Linked DNA regions of Homo sapiens: region 1 is linked to region 2. Evidence: fine-mapped expression QTL. Tissue or cell type: tibial nerve. Region 2 holds a variant in brackets; the other region holds the start of a gene. All regions are shown on one strand. Distances are between the middles of the regions.

Region 1 (2,676 bases), 56 kb after region 2:
ATCTCACTGAGGTTGTTAAATTCTGGTTACATGTTGAATGATGTATCTATCTATTGGGTTAAGTAAAACGTATTGTTAACTTTGGCTATTACTTGTTACCTTTAAAAAATGTAGCTACTGGAAGCTTTAAGATGACAAATGTGGTTCTCCTCCTCCATCTACAGGCATGTCCCGGTTCACGGCGGCTGTGTCCCCGCGGCCTCAGACCCAGGGTCCAGCCCATGCTCTGGCCCCTCCGGCGGCCAGGATCAGCATCGCTGCCCCGGGGCCCGCGCCGAGCCGGCTGCTCCTCCGTGCTCTGCGCTCCTGGGCCCGCACCAGCCCCCTCCCCTGGAGCCCCCTTCGTCCCTGCGAGGGTTCCCTGCACGCCCCGCGCTGAGACCCAGCCTGGCCCGGGCCGGAGCCCTCCGCGACGTCAGGATGCGCCTGGCCTCACGCCGCCTCCCCTCCGTCTTCTCTGGGCCGCAGCCGCTCCTCGTGAGTGAGGTCGCGGCCAGGGAGCCGGGTGGACGCGCCGGGAAGCTGCACGGTCCACGCTCCGTCTGCGCGGAGAGCCGGGCGCGCGTGGCCCGGCCCCTGCAGGCGCGACTGCCGCCGCCCCGGTGGGCTCCCCTCCCCCGCACGCCCGGCACGCGGCTGGACGACTGCGGCCGCGCGGGGGCTGGAACATCCCCTCAGAGCCGCAAGAGAGCGCACCCGCCGCCGGCGCCCGGAACCCAGGGCCCCTTTAAGAGGCGCCGCCGGAGCAGGGCCGTGACGTCATAGAAGTGCGAAGGGCGGAGTCTGTGCGCAGCCGCGGCGCGGGGGGCGGGGCGGGGGCGCGGCGTTCTTGCGGGCCTGACTGACAGGAGCGCCCTCCGGGAGCGACCAGTACTAGGCCGCCGGTCGCAAGAGCGCCCCGCGTAGGCCCCGCCCCGAAAGGAGGCCCCGCCCCGGGGCAGGCCCCGCCTCCACAAGGACACCAAGTCCCGCACAAGCCACGCCCCCCGCAGGCCCCGCCCCACTCTGTTCAGATCTAGGCCCAACTCAGGCTCCGCACCTCAAGGCTCCGCCCCCAGCAAGGCTCCGCCCCAGGCCCGGCTCCACCCCGCACAGGCCCCACCCCGAGTCAGGCTCCGCCCCGCCCAGGCCCCGCCCCGGGCTCGGCTCCGCGGGGCGGGACTTGCCCTCAGCCTGAGTCGGCGGCGGCTGCGGGAACTTTCCCAGCGGATCTAATGGCTGCGCGCGGGCCGCTGTGAGGCGCGGCGGCGAGCGACGGGCGCGGGGCCGCGGAGCAGCGAGCGAGCGAGCGAGCGCGAGGCCGGAGCCCCGGCCAGGCCCGGCCGACCCGCCGAGCCCGCGATGCGCCCCGGGGCCGCCCCCCGGCGCAGCTGACGCCCCGCGGCCCCGCGAAGACCCCGGCCGGCCGGTCCCGGAGGAAGCGGCCGCCGCCGCCGCCGCCCAGCCCAGCGCCCGCGCCGCCCGGGCACCATGGCGGGGAAGGCGGCCGCCCCGGGCACCGCGGTGCTGCTGGTCACGGCCAACGTGGGCTCGCTCTTCGACGACGTAAGTCCCCCGTGCCGGCGGCAGGCCCCAAGCCCGGAACCCCCGACCCTGACCCCGGGGTCCCGAACTGCAAGCCTTGGACCCTGGACCGTGAACCTCCAGACCCAGAGGCCCCAGACTCTGATCCCTGTACCCGGGACCCCAGACTCCTGTCCTGATTCCCAAGTCTGGGAGCCCAGACCCCTGTCTTGATCCCCAAGCCCGAGACCTGAAGACCTGGGCCCTGAATCCCCGAACCCCATCCTCCAGACTCCAGCAGCTGACCGTTGACCCTGGGACCCTGCCTCTGAACTCCTGTCTGCAAATCCTGACCTCGAAACTCCAATATTAAAACCCTGTCAGAACCCCTGTTAACAGTTCCTGGAACCCAAACCCCAGAAACCGGGTCTGTGCGCACCAAACCCAGCCCCAGCCCTGATTTCCGAATCCTCAGAACCCTGGCCCTGGAATGCCCATCCCCAACCCTGGCCCTGAACCCCAGGTCCATGGTCACTGGAACCACAAATCCTGACTGCAGAACTCTGGTTACAGAACCTGCTCTCAAACGTCTGTCTCTGGTCCCTGAGCCCTGGACCCCAAACCCTGAAACATAACCACAAACCCTAACCCAGGAACTTCTGACACAGGGCTGTGGCCCCAACCTCCTGTCCCTGTTCCCCAATCACTGAATTCTAGCCCTAGAATCCCAGCCTTCATACTGTGGCCCTTTGCCTCTAAAGCCAATCTAGCCTGACTCTGAACCCTGAATTTCAACCTCAGGCCCCAGCTTATGGCCCTGAACACTTGTCCTTGACCCCTGAACCTGGAACCCTGGTTCCAGAATCAGGCCCCAAACCCAATTCTGGACCCTGCCCCTAACTCTGGTTCCTAGATCCCATCCTTGGCCCCTTCCTCCAACAAGCTCCTGCCCCTGAATCCTGAATCCTGAATCCTGGTCTTAAAGCCTGGGCCTTGAGCCTGCAGAATTCCCAAACCCTAACCCTTGACTCCCACCCCTGGCCCCTGTCCTCTGAGCCTAGGCCCTCCACTCTGGCTGTCAGCCCCAGCTCCTGGATGCCTGGGTGCCGGCCTCACTGTCTGTCTGTCCCTGCAGGGCCAGAGGGTAGGGTGCCCCCATTTAACCCTGCCACT
Region 2 (2,676 bases):
CCTGGCAGTCCAAGGGGCCTTCCTGTTCTCAAAGTACATGCAGCACTTGGGAAAAGTAGCTGCACATCCCACAGGAAGTGAGTGAGCTGACTTCAGTCAGTTCATGCTGTAGCAACAATGTTTCCTGACCAGGATGCAACGAGCTAACAGTCAACATGAGATCTTACAACTGATCTTAATAATTTGAGATAAGAAGAAGCTTTCAGGGGCTGGGCGCGGTGGCTCACGCCTGTAATCCCAGCACTTTGGGAGGCCAAGGTGGGTGGATCACAATGTCAGGAGATCGAGACCATCCTGGCTTACACGGTGAAACCCCGTCTCTACTAAAATTACAAAAAAAAAAAAAAATTAGCCAGGTGTGCTGGCGGGCACCTGTAGTCCCAGCTACTCGGGAGGCTGAGGCAGGAGAATTGCTTGAACCTGGGAGGCGGAGCTTGCAGTGAGCCGAGATCACGCCACTGCACTCCAGTCTGGGCGACAGAGCCAGACTCCATCTCAAAAAAAAAAAAAAAAAAAAAAGAAGTAGAACCTTCCAAAATTACCATTTATTTGGAAAATAAAATATACACTTCTAAAAGCCGTGAGTTAAAGAATAACACATGATAGAAATGAGAAATGCTTAGAACCAGATTACAGTGGGTGCACTGCCTATTATGTATGAGTACATGAAACTCTCCACGTACATATGGAATATTGCAAAGTGCAACTAACTCACTCCAGAAATTAGACAGATTTAAAAGAAGGAAACAATGGAAATTAATGAGCCAAGCCTTCAACGTAAGTGACAAAAAGAACAAGAGGCTAAAGCAATAAAAGCAGGACAAAGATACAAATATGAGCAGAAACTCAGGAAATAGAAAATAAAAGGCAAATCGGGTGGATCAAAGACAAATGTTGGCTGATTATTAGAAAGATGAAGGTGACAGACGCCACTGGCAAAAACAGAGAGAGAGAGAACAGAGTCGGTATTAGGAATGAAAAGGAGAATCATCAAACACAAGCAGAAGTTTAAAGATAAACATATCAGGAACCAGTCCGTTTGAAATCTTTTCCAAAACAGGTAAGATTTTAAATGGATACATTCCCAGAAAATTGTGGAAAATGAATACATTCGCAGAAGATCATGACAAAAAATTGATTCAAGAAGGAAGAGATGACCTAATAATTCTACAACCATTAAAGACATTTAACCATTGATTTAAAATCTCCTGCAAGAAAACTCAGGTTGACAGGTGTGGGAGACCAGAACGCGCCTCCTGAAAAGCAGGCCTGTGGGGCTGAGGGCCTCTGCGAGGAGCAACGGAGGTAGAGCTCCCGGTCCCCCCTCGACACAGGACACGGGCTTACAAAGACGAAGGAATCCTGCCCCCCTCTACTAGGGAGAACAAAGGTTAACCACTGAAGACAGCTTCAGACCCTCATCACCTGCACCTGAAGATAGTTCCAGAATAATCTGCACCAACAAGCTTTATGAAGGAGCCTTTATCTGACATTTATTCGCTTTTCCTCAAGTTCCTGCCTACAGAGACTCCAAGTCTTTCTTTTTTGCCCAGAACTTCTCTGAAAATCTATCGCTCTTTGTTAAAGATGCTCTACAAGCTGGAATTCAAAGCCGCCTCGTTGAGAGTGACTCATGCCCTAGGCATCTCCCACACATACGTGAAACAC[A/T]CATGTTAATAAGCCTCTGCTTGTTTTTCTTCTATTCATCTCTGTTTTGTAAGAGGGATCTGTTCCGACTAAGAACTCACAGGGTTCTTATTTTCCCCTGCCCAGGGTTGCACAGATGTGTTCTACCAAACTTTCAAGGAACAGAACGTTCCAGTCTTTTACAAACTCTTCCTGAGAGTAGAAAGGAGGGAGCACTCCCTGAATCATTGTGAAGCCATTACAATCTTTAAAACAAACCAGACAAGAATAGTCCAAGAAAAATCATGTTTTAGTACAATCTCACTCCCAAACAAAGACGTACAAACCCTAAACAAATCATTAGCACACTGAACTCACGGCGTCTATTTTTAAAAGGTGATGACACTCATGACTGTGTTGGGATTTGCTGGGATTATCCCAGGAATGTGAGTGATTTAGACCGAGAAGATCGATAACTTTCATTCACCGCATGAACGGATTAAAGGGGAAGACAGGCTCATCCCAGTGGATGCCGAAAATCACTCAACACAACTCAAAACACACTCAGGAAAAAAGGAAGAGACTTTTCAAACTTAGAAATGGGAAACTTACCAAAAACCTACAGCAGACCAAAAATGGGGAAACACCGGTGCATCCCCTTTAAAAATCCAGAGCCCAGGCTGGGCACGGTGGCTCACGTCTGTAATCCCAGCACTTTGGGAGGCCGGGGTGGGCGGATCACGAGGTCAGGAGATGGAGACCATCTTGGCTAACACGGTGAAACCCCGTCTCTACTAAAAATACAAAAAATTAGCCAGGTGTGGTGGCGGGCGCCTGTAATCCCAGCTACTCAGGAGGCTGAGGCAGGAGAATGGCGTGAACACGGGAGGTGGAGCTTGCAGTGAGCCGAGATTGCACCACTGCCCTCTAGCCTGGGTGACAGAGTGAGACTCCGTCAAAAAAAAAAAAAAAATCCAGAGCCAAGGTGGGAATACTCTCCCCTCAGCGGCACGGCAGAGATCCAGCCGAGGTTTAACGCAGGGCAGCCTC

Direction of the effects. Alleles are on the strand shown, and positions count from the first base shown. SD is a standard deviation of normalised expression in the study named.
In carriers of allele T in region 2, the expression in tibial nerve of the gene that starts at base 1,161 in region 1 tends to be higher than with A alone (small effect, 0.39 SD a copy in GTEx).

Evidence for each region. PIP is the estimated chance that this variant, and not a neighbour inherited with it, causes the effect.
Region 1: it holds the start of INPP5A, and the variant in region 2 is fine-mapped to the expression of INPP5A in tibial nerve (GTEx, PIP above 0.99). The same link has a PIP of 0.9 or more in fibroblasts and nucleus accumbens.

The regions. Positions count from the first base shown.
Region 1 is chr10:132,536,627-132,539,302 of GRCh38, forward strand. It overlaps INPP5A (inositol polyphosphate-5-phosphatase A), which reads left to right and starts at 1,161. Exons shown (of 16, transcript NM_005539.5): 1 at 1,161-1,545. The coding sequence starts at 1,471. It overlaps LOC107984282 (a long non-coding RNA gene), which reads right to left and starts at 297. Exons shown (of 4, transcript NR_158224.1): 1 at 100-297. RefSeq lists a silencer at 182-1,281 and an enhancer at 2,062-2,111.
Region 2 is chr10:132,480,578-132,483,253 of GRCh38, forward strand. No RefSeq gene overlaps it. Among named protein-coding and RNA genes, the nearest start is that of LINC02870, 37 kb to the left of the region's middle. RefSeq lists an enhancer at 1-394. The variant A/T (reference allele first, on the strand shown) is at 1,669.